3 linked regions of the Homo sapiens genome follow. The protein of the gene in region 1 purifies or fractionates together with the protein of each later gene. This does not show direct contact. Each region holds a gene or a part of one and is shown in the gene's direction. Other genes may lie near its edges. The genes, in order: THAP8, EML3 and RAB14.

Evidence for each region.
Region 2: the proteins of THAP8 (region 1) and EML3 purify together in Homo sapiens (affinity purification with mass spectrometry; one large-scale study listed by BioGRID and IntAct). This does not show direct contact.
Region 3: the proteins of THAP8 (region 1) and RAB14 purify together in Homo sapiens (affinity purification with mass spectrometry; one large-scale study listed by BioGRID and IntAct). This does not show direct contact.

The regions. Positions count from the first base shown.
Region 1 is NC_000019.10:36,040,674-36,044,326, reverse strand, and holds part of THAP8 (THAP domain-containing protein 8), read left to right. Parts: intron 1-3,653.
Region 2 is NC_000011.10:62,602,776-62,606,428, reverse strand, and holds part of EML3 (echinoderm microtubule-associated protein-like 3), read left to right. Parts: intron 1-214; coding exon 215-366; intron 367-448; coding exon 449-574; intron 575-655; coding exon 656-787; intron 788-1,248; coding exon 1,249-1,316; intron 1,317-2,227; coding exon 2,228-2,316; intron 2,317-2,387; coding exon 2,388-2,485; intron 2,486-2,612; coding exon 2,613-2,700; intron 2,701-3,181; coding exon 3,182-3,280; intron 3,281-3,539; coding exon 3,540-3,653. UniProt on the Homo sapiens protein: Regulates mitotic spindle assembly, microtubule (MT)-kinetochore attachment and chromosome separation via recruitment of HAUS augmin-like complex and TUBG1 to the existing MTs and promoting MT-based MT nucleation.
Region 3 is NC_000009.12:121,195,252-121,198,904, reverse strand, and holds part of RAB14 (ras-related protein Rab-14), read left to right. Parts: intron 1-3,653.

The DNA.
Region 1 (3,653 bases):
TAGTTTTAAGAAAAATATGAAATAAGTAATATCACAGATATGGAAAACATTGTGAAGATGGGATATGCATGAGATGTGTCTTAGTTATCTAATGCTATATAACAAACTATCCCCAAATTTAGCAGCTTGAAATAAACATTTACAGTCTCAGTTTCTGGCAGCTGCTAAGGACAAACTGGCCAGCATTTGATCATGTGGCCACCCCTGGCTGCAAATAAGGCTGGAAAAGGAGGTCTTTATTATGGGTAGCCTTGAGCCCAGGTCTAAATAGAGAGTGGATTACCATCTAAGAGGGTAAGAGCAGATGCTGGGAATAAGTGGCACCCGGAAACCGGAGAAGTGGGGCACATTTAGAGGGTCCCTCATCAGATAATCCTCACCCACAACCACTGAGAAAGCTTTTATTTTTTAAAACTTAAAACAAAAAAAATTTTTTTTTGAGATGGAGTCTTGCTCTGTCGCCCAGGTTGTAGTGCAGTGGCGTGATCTCGACTCACTGCAACTTCCACCTCCCAGGTTCAAGTAATTCTTCTGCCTCAGCCTCCCGAGTAGCTGGGATTACAGGGACACGCCACCAGGCCTGGCTAATTTTTGTAATTTTCGTAGAGACGGGGTTTCACCATGTTGGCCAGGCTGGTCTTGAACTTGAATTCAAAATCACTTGAGGTCTGACTGCAAGTGATCCGCCCACCTCGGCCTCCCAAAGTGCTGGGATTACAGGCGTGAGCCACCGTGCCTGGCCTATTAAAATTATTTTTACCTGTGGCAAAATACACATAAAATCTACCATTTTGATCATTTTTAAGTGTACAATTTTGATCATTAAGTGTACAATTCACTAATGTTAAGTGTTGTATAACCAATCTCCAGAACTTTTTCCTCTCCTAAAACACTCTATCCCCATTGGACAATTCCCTCTTTCCCTCTCCCCCAGGCTCTTGGCAACCACCATTCCACTGTCTGTCTCTAGGAATTTGACTGTTCTACCTCATATAAGTGAAATCGTCAGTATTTGACTGGCTTATTTCACTTACCCTAATGGCCCTCAGAGTTCATCTGTGTTGTTGCATGTGTCAGATCAAGACTAAATAAAATTCCAGGCCAGATGCAGTGGCTCACACCTGTAATCCCAGCACTTTGGGAGGCCGAGGTGGGTGGATCACCTGAGGTCAGGAGTTTGACACCAGCCTGGCCAACATGGTGAAACCCCATCTCTACTAAAAATACAAAAATAGCCAGGTGCAGTGGCAGGCACCTGTAATCCCAGCTACTTGGGAAGCTGAGGCGGGAGAGTCGCTTGAACCCAGGGGGCGGAGGTTGCAGTGAGCCGAGATCACACCACTGCATTCCATCCTGGGCAACAGAGTGAGACTCCATCGCAAAAATAAATAAATAAGCCGGGCATGGTGGCGGGAGCCTGTAATCCCAGCTACCCAGGAGGCTGAGGCAGGAGAATCACTTGAACCCAGGAGGCAGAGATTGCAGTGTGCCGAGATTGCGCCATGGCACTCCAGCCTGGGTGACAGAGTGAGACTGCATCTCCTCCCTCCCCCCAAAAAAAAGACTAAATAAAATAAAATTCCATTGTATGTATATGCAGCATTTTTCTTATCCATGTATCTGTTGATAGACACTTCCACCTTTTGGCTGTTGTGATTTATGCTGCTATGTTTCTGTTGTCTGTTTGTTTGTTTTTGAGACAGCATGTCGCTCTTTTGCCCAGGCTAGAGTGCAGTAATGTGATCATGGCTCACTGTAGCCTTAACCTCCTGGGCTCAAGCAGTCCTCCCACCTCAGCCTCCTGAGTAGCTGTGCCTCTAGGCACATGCCACCATATCTGGCTAATTTTTCTATTTTTTGTAGAGACAAGATTTCACCTGTTGCTCAGGTTGGTCTTGAACACCTGGGCTCAAGTGACCCACCCACCTCAGCCTCCCAAAGTGCTGGGATTACAGGCATGAGCCACCACGCCAGGCCTGATTTATGTTGCTACGAACGCAGGTGTGCAAATATCTCTCCAAGACCCTGTTTTGTGTTCTTTTGGGTATGTAAGCAGAAGTGGATTGCTGGGTCATATGGTAATTCTATTTTTCAGTGTTTGAGGAACTGCCATATTGTTTTCCACAGTGGCAGCACCGTTTTACATTCCCAGCAGTGTACCAGAGTTCCAGCAGTTTTTCCACATCCTCACACACACTGTTCTTCTCTTCCTCTTCCTCCCCCTCTTACTCCCTCCCCCTTCCCCTTCCCCTCCTCCTCCATCACCCAGGCTGGAATGCAGTAGTGTGATCATAGCTCACTGCAGCGTTCAAATTCCTGAGCTTAAGCAATCCTCCCACATTGCCTCCTAAGTAGATAGAACTATAGATGCACATTGCCACACCCAGCTAATTTAAAAAATATTTTTTCGTAGAGACAAGGTCTTGCTACATTGCCCAGGATGGTCTTGGACTACTGCCTTCAGGAGATCCTCCTGCCTCAGCCTCCCAAAGTGCTGGGATTACAGACACAAGCCACCATGCCCGGCCTCTTTTTTGTTGTTGTTCAATAGTAGCTGTTCTGGTGTTTGTCAGATGATATTTCATCAGGGTTCTGATACTGCGTTTTCCTAATGATTGGAGATGTCAAGTATCTTTTCATGTGCTTATTGGCCATTTGTATGTCTTTGGAGAAATGTTTGTTCAAGTCCTTTGCCCATTTTTGAATCAGGTTATTTGTGTTTTATTGTTGTTGAGTTGTTTAAAGACTTGTTAGTGGGTGTTTTCAAGCATACACAAAAAGTAGAGCCCTCAGTATCCATCACTGTGTCACTAGTTATCAACACTTTGCCAATCTTCTTCCCTGCCCTGCCCACACCTCTAAGTTTTTGTCCTGCACTATTTTAAAGTAAATCCCAGACATCAGATCTTTTATCCGTAATTATTTCAGACTGATTTCTAACAGAAGACTGTTTCAGAAGTATAAACCAATACAGTTATCACACCTAGCAAAATGAATTTTTTTTTTTTTTTTTTAAAGACAGGGTCTGGCTCTGTCACCCAGGCTGGAGTACAGTTGCGCAATCTCGGCTCACTGCAACCTCTGCCTCCCAGGCTCAGGTGACCCTCCCACTTCAGCCTCCCGAGTAGCTGGGACTACAGGCATGTACCACCATACATGGCTAATTTTTTTTTTTTTTTGTAGAGTCGAGGTCTCCCTATGTTGCCCAGGCTGGTCTCGAACTCCTGGGCTCAAGCGATCCTCCCACCTTGTCGTCTTCCCAAAGTGCTAGGATTACAGGCATGAACCGCCATGCCTGACCAGTTTCTTACAATTATCTTATAACCAGTTCATGTTCAGTTTTCCCCAATTGTCTTAAAATGTCTTTTTACTGAATTGTTTGTTGTAGGCAAGGTCCACATCCTGCGTTTGTGCTGATGTTTCTTAAATCTCTCTTAATCCAGAAACCCCACACCCCCATTTATATGGTGTGGAAGAAACGTTTTCGCTTGGCTGCACGATCTCCCACATCGTAACTGTCTGATTTTATAAACTGCTCCAACAAGTTGATGTGGAAGAACAAATTGGGAGTGGAGGGGCGGGACTGTGGGCAGGAAGACCAGGAAGGAGGCTGGAAGGAGGGGCAGTGGAGGGGGCAGAGGTGGGCTGATGCT
Region 2 (3,653 bases), on another chromosome or scaffold:
TTGCCTTTAGGAAGTTACCTCATTTCTGTGAGTCTCAGTTGTCCTGTTTGTAAAATGGGGAGAATAACAGATGTGTTGGCAGTATGAGGATGAGACATAGTAGTCAGTGCATGCAATGGCTGGGAGTTCTTACTGTATTGCGACAGCCAAGCTGGCCCTGTTTCTCACTCCCCTGCACCCCCAAAACATGATCTACCTGGGGCTTTGCCAACAGAGACCTATGGGATTGTGGCCCAGGCTCACGCTCATGAAGGTTCTATCTTCGCCTTGTGTCTCCGGAGGGACGGGACAGTGCTGAGTGGTGGCGGGCGGGACCGCCGGCTGGTACAGTGGGGGCCCGGGTTGGTGGCCCTCCAGGAGGCTGAGGTGAGGGCTGGGCTGGGGTCAAGGGAGTGAGGGAGAAGAGCAATAGTCAGTGGGCTCTTGACATTCTGCTACCACTCTGCAGATTCCCGAGCACTTCGGGGCCGTGCGAGCCATTGCTGAAGGGCTTGGCTCTGAGCTGCTGGTGGGAACCACGAAGAATGCATTGCTGAGGGGAGACCTGGCCCAGGGCTTCTCCCCTGTAATCCAGGTTGGGGGTTAAGGGCTCAGGGGAGGAAGGGACAAAGGGGTGTGAGAGAGGGGCAGGAGTGACAGTCATGCTGTGCTGCAGGGCCACACTGATGAGCTCTGGGGGCTCTGCACACACCCCTCCCAGAACCGCTTCCTCACCTGCGGCCACGACCGGCAGCTCTGCCTGTGGGATGGGGAGAGCCATGCACTGGCCTGGAGCATCGACCTCAAGGTAGAGCCCTGTGCCCCTGGATCCCCCATGCCACACCCACCAGGACACCTGTGGCCACCACGCCTTCCCCAGCACCTTGCCTTCTGCCTCCCAGAGGTGGCCAGTTTGTACTGGTATGGCTGCACTGGCTACTCAAATATTAATTTTTCTGTACTGACTGGTAAAAGCTGATGCTTCTAGTACCACCTGGGCACTCCCTGCCGCCCCCAGAACCCCTCAGACTTCCTCTTGATCCAGCACCTAAATGGTTAATCTCCAGCACAGCTATTGGCATCAGTTCTGTGGTTAAATATTTTGGTATCACTCCCTGTTCAGGCTCCAGTGATACCCGGGTATCCCTTCCCTCTCTTCCCATCTTCTCCTTGGGAGTAAGTGGCTTTGAAGTTAGGAGGACAAGGGGTTCACTCTGGTTCCCTCACTAGAAAGACATCATCTTGAATTCACCTTCTCCCCTCTCCCAGGAGACTGGTCTCTGTGCTGACTTCCACCCGAGTGGGGCAGTTGTGGCCGTAGGACTGAACACGGGGAGGTGAGAGAGAGCCAGGACTCCCAGGAGGGAAAGCAGGGAGGACTGGGAAGGGTTCCTGGTACTGGGGGAGTGGGCGAGAGTGACCACCTCTACCCAGGAGCCACCTGCGCCTTGGCACTCCTCTGTGCCTCTCCCTGCAGCCCCTGCCACCCGGGCTCCCCTCCTCTTCTGTGGTAACTGTTTCTCCCCCTCCCCCAACCCAGTGTCTCCTCCAAGCCTGGGAGTGGAGGAGGCAGCAGCCCAGGATAGAGAAACAGTGGGAATGGGAGGGGCATAGACAAACACAGGGAAGTGACAGGCTTCCAGCTTGCACAGTGCCTTTGTAGTCGGCCCCTGGTCTGTAGTTTCAGATTACTTTTTCAGACGACATCAGAAGCCCCTCAGCCTTTATCCACACTTAGCTCCTTCCCATTTCTCAGCATAAGAATGCAGTGGTGGCCAGGTGCGGTGGCTCACGCCTGTAATCCTAGCGCTTTGGGAGCTGAGGCGGGTGGATCACTTGAGGTCAGGAGTTCAAGACCAGCCTGGCCAACATGGTGAAACCTCGTCTCCACTAAAAATACAAAAATTAGACGGGCATGGTGGTACGCACCTGTAATTCTAGCTACTCAGGAGGCTGAGGCATGAGAATCACTTGAACCCAGGAGGTGGAGGTTGCGTTGAGATCTTGCCACTGCACTCCAGCCTGGGTGACAGAGTGAGACTCTGTCTCAAAACAACAACAACAACAACAACAAACTAAAAAAGAAGAATGCAGTTGTGACCTGTCTTCTACATCAGAGCCTTTCTGTGTGTGTCTCTGAGCTTCTCTTATTTGCCATCCCCAAGCCTACCCAGGGTGGCCTCCCTGGGGGTCTCCTTACATCCTGCCTTTTCGTCTTCCTATCTGCCTCCACTTCCCTCCCTTCCAGGTGGTTGGTTTTGGACACAGAGACCAGAGAGATCGTGTCTGATGTCATTGATGGCAATGAGCAGCTCTCAGTGGTCCGGTACAGCCCAGGTGGGAGCCACCCCAACCCTGGACTCACATGCGTCCCTGGCCCTTCCCTCTCTGAGTGACTGTATTTGCAGATGGGTTGTACCTGGCCATTGGTTCCCATGACAACGTGATCTACATCTATAGTGTTTCCAGTGATGGTGCCAAATCCAGCCGCTTTGGCCGCTGTATGGTGAGGAAGTTGGGGTGTGTGGTGGGGCATGATAACAGCTGCGAAACTCAGGGGTCTGATGCATCAAGGGGGCTCTGGGGATGGGAAATGGATGGGATACTTTAAAACTCTTGACCTTTGCTCCCAGGGTCACTCCAGCTTCATCACTCATCTTGACTGGTCCAAGGATGGGAATTTCATCATGTCCAATTCTGGGGACTATGAGATTCTTTACTGTGAGTGGCAGTGGAGCAGGACATGGGGAGAGGGTAATTGGAGTGGGTTTTGTGTAGGGGGGGCTGTTAGAGGTGTTGTTAGATAAGGAAGTGGAGATGGGGTTAAAGTGGAGTTGGAATTATATGTAGGAGAAATTTCGTGATTTGGAAACAACTAGTTTCACACCATGTCTTGTTGACTTGAGGGAGTTCAAAAATGCGCTAAGAAAAGATTGTTTGGGAAAAGTTTCTCAGGGCAAGTGTGGAGCACTTGACTTATCTAGGGAGGAGGAACTCGTGGAAGCTGTTAGAACTTCAGCCAGAGCTCAGGACAGGACGCACACAGGGTGGGTTTCACAGGGGGAGGAGGTGATGCTACTACGGTGACCAGATCACATGCCATCGCCGGGTTTCATGCCAGTCTTTCCAGTCTGGCTTTCCCTGGCATCTTCCCTACTGAGGGCAGGGTGAGAGCTGAGCTGGGCGGGCTCCCTCTCCCCAGGGGACGTGGCTGGAGGCTGCAAGCAGCTGAAGAATCGCTATGAGAGCCGAGACCGGGAATGGGCTACCTACACCTGTGTGCTGGGCTTTCACGTCTACGGTGAGCAGGGGCGTGGAAACCTGCTGGAAGGGTGGGGGACAAGGTGGAGCCCAGTTTGGGCTTGGAACGCTGGGCGTGTGTCGTTGGGTGAGAGTCCAGAAACCTGAAGATCCAGCCCAGGAGGCCCCTCGGGACCGGGAAGGCTTGCCTGGAACGCGGCAGTGGGTGGCCGCGGCTGCCGGAGCGCCTGAAATGGTGTAGCTCTGGGCCGTGGGTGGCGGTGGGTAGGAGGTCGGGCTGAGGCCGGCCGCTGTGCTAGGCGTCTGGCCGGACGGCTCCGATGGGACCGACATCAACTCCCTGTGCCGCTCCCACAACGAGCGCGTGGTGGCGGTGGCCGACGACTTCTGCAAAGTGCATCTCTTCCAGTACC
Region 3 (3,653 bases), on another chromosome or scaffold:
ATTGACCACTCATTTTTATTAGATTAGATTATTAGATTAACTACAGAAGTTTTATCCGCCTGACTGACAAATCAGGTAGTAGTGGTCCATTTTAGTGGGCCTCTAAAGCAAGTCAGCATGCTTCTGTTGTTGAGTTCCACGAAGGCAGAGACAGTGTTGTCTTTTTTGATCATTGCTGTCTTGCTAAAGCCTGGCACAATGCTTTGTGCTTAGTAGATACTTAACAGATATGTTTATGTTGGAACTACAGAAGCAGTCCATCTCAGCTCTGGTATTTTTAACAAAACGTCGTGCATGTTAAAAAACAAACAAAAAACTTATCAGTGGAAATAACAAGGATAAGAATTAAATTACCTGGAATATTTAATGGGTTGCTTTTCCCTTGTTATGTCTTGGATCAGCTATGTAAAAATTATACAGTAACATCATAGGTTCTAAGGAGTAGAATAGCTGTATAACAGTTTTTAAAATCAGAGCAAACAGTAAGTAGTTAAGCTATTAAAAAACTCCCAAAAATATGCCCTCTACTATTGAGTGTTGGTTTTTCTATTTTGAACCCAATCGTATTATTGGCTTCATAAGATATTCCTCTTATTATCAGTAAATGCGGAAATAATGTTGGGAATATTATGAGTGGGAGATTTGTTTGTTTTTGTTTGGGTATTCTTTAACCTGTATTAAAATAGAAAAGGGCTTTTGAAATATTTATCGGTAGAGAAAATTTTATTTTTAATTCATTATAGTAAGTCAGTGCAGGGATATATAAAGAAAAGTTAATAATTTCTCTATTCCCTGTTTCTCCTGTCCATGTATTTTTCACAATTTGGTGTGTATTCCATATTATATGAATATAGGGTTGAGTGTGTGTGTGTGTGTGTGTGTGTTTGAAAGTGGGGTATGCTGTTGCATAAAACTCTGCAACATGTGTTTTTTCACTTAACAAAATCATGGATGTATTTCCAGGTTAATGCATATCAATCAAAATGGTTTCTAAACTACATGGATATTATTTTGTATTATAGATGTACTTTATTCAGTCATTTCTTTGCTGATTATTTCCAGTTTTTTGCTGTAAAAATGGTGCATTAAATGCACTAATACCTGTAGCCTTATGGGCTGAAGCTTTTGTATATGTAGGATACTTTCTGGGCCAAAGGATGATTTGGATTATTGTTAAGATTTTTAAACATACTGATTACTTTCCAAAATGTTGGCACATTTCCACAAGCAGTATGTATGAAAGTGTATACCTTCACATCTGTACCTACATGTTTCAAAACTAGTCGTTTATATGTCTGTGTAATCTTAGAAAGGTGTCTGATTCAGTAAATAGAAACCATGCATTCTATTTTTGTCACAACAATAATTAGTGTTTAATATTTGTTCAGTAACCACTTAGATCTAAATGTACTGACATGAAAATGTGTCTATCATTTTGTTGAGTAAAAGAAATATGCAGAATTTTACAAGATGGCGTACCCCATTTTAAAATACATTTTTCACCTTAACAGTGGTGAAAATGGTGGTGAAAAATGGTATATTTTCACAGTGGTGAAATGGTATGTTTCCCCAGTGGTGAAAACTGGTATGTTTCATGTTCAGGAGATGAGGTTGAGAAATCCTTTATTAAAGCAATATTAAGCATATTAATATTTTTAAGGAGTCAGTTGAATACATGGCACAGTTGTTAGTGTTTACTATGCATTTAGTAAATATTTCTCTTGGCAGCAAGGGTAGTTTATAGCTAAATTTTACATGCACTAATATCCTTCCTCTTTCTCTGATTTTTATTTTATCAGTCTACCTGTACATACCTGAAATAAGCTAATAATACCTTAGAGAAAATCATGGTCTTTGGAATCAGGCCTGGGTTCAAGTTCTAGGTCTACCATTTACAAACTTTATAACATTGGCCAAATGAGTGAATTTCTCCAAACCTCAGTTTCTTTAATTTTTTGCATGGACATAATGATAATGACTCTGCAGAGTTGTGAGAATTAAGTAAGAATTATAAAAAGTAGTATAGATCATTACATGGTTTACTCTCAAGTGTTCTCAAGAAACTTTTTCTAAGTAAATGAATTATAGTATTATAAGTTAGTATTACTAGTATTACCAGTCATTTATATCTATAAATTCTGACTGCAGTGCATCCTCTGAATGTAATTCATGTATCTTATTCAGAATATTAAATTATAATTAAGCGAGTGAATACTGCAGAGCTACATGGTACAGCTGATAACCATGTGGAGGAGGCACGACGGTGGAGAGGGCAGGATGGTGTGGTGGTTAAGAGGGGATCTCTGTAGTTAAAACAGTCCTAGGTTCAGTACAGACTTGGCTGTGTGACCTGGGCATGTTACCTCTTGAGTCTGTGTCCTCATCTGTAAAATGAGGATAATAATTAACTATGTTATAGGATAGTAGTAAGGATTAAATGAAATTGTATGTAAAATATTTAGCACATTGCCCGGCATATGTCAAGTACCCAATAAATAGTAACTCACAATTGTATTTCTTATTAGTTTGCAAATTGTTGATTATGTGTTAAATGCCTGTTGTCTAAATATGTGGTACTTTTTTTCCTTTAAAGGCAATAAAGATCTTTTACTTACATATGAACTTGATTCGAATACTTTCTGTAAAATGTGGAATAAAGTGAATTTTAATTGTCCCGGTAGTTGTATACAAGTTATAGAATATTACCAGGATTTTTTTTTTCATTTATGGGGATTGTAATGTTAAGTGGGCTCATGTTTTCAGAGTTTGAACCAGACCAGCATTTCCTGTCCTTTTTTTTAGACTCAAGAGTTCTCTAAGTAAAGCAAAAGTACTGTTAAATAATAGGGGAAGAATTTTTTCCCTTCCAAAGTTAGGTAAAAATATATTCCTCACCTTAACAATAGTATGTTTCATGTTCAAGAAATGAGACTGAGAAATCTTTTGTTAAAGCAACATTAAGCCTATTTAGTATTGAATATAATTCTACTGCAAATACTTTTGACTGAAATGTATTAATATCAGTCAACTATGGGAATATATTTAAATCTAGACAGTATCTTCTTAGAATAAGAAAGGGAAGACCTGTTGTGAGTGTTGGTGGCTACAGTGTTAAATGTTTTCTGCCTTTGTTTACTGAAATTAGTAAGTTTGAGTAGTTTTCCTTTAATTCTGCTTTTATGGTTTTTATTTGTAATTTTTAAAGAAACGAGCAAGAAAAATGTGTGGTGTGGTGAGACAGAGCCCTGGTATTAAATCCGAAATAGTGATCATTTCTTTTATTTGGAAATAGTTTCTACTATATGAATGTTTGTAATTTTAAGATACATTTTCAAAATTAGTTATCTCACATTTAATGAATGTATGATAATTAGCAGGTACACAAATTAGTACAACTAAAATTGGGTCACAATTTTATGATAGTCTTTAAAGCATTTGAAGTAGAAATTTGGGATTGTTAGAAGTCATAGCTTTAACATAAAATAGAAGGAGCAAAGTATGTACAGCTACAACCTTTAGTTAGAAGAGGGAAAGAAATTAGGAAAATCAAGGGAGAAGAGCACAGAAGAGACAGTAATTTGAAGGTGACTAAGTGATTACTTTTACCCAGGTTTGAATGGGGAAAGAATTTAGAAGAATTAAAAATTGATTAG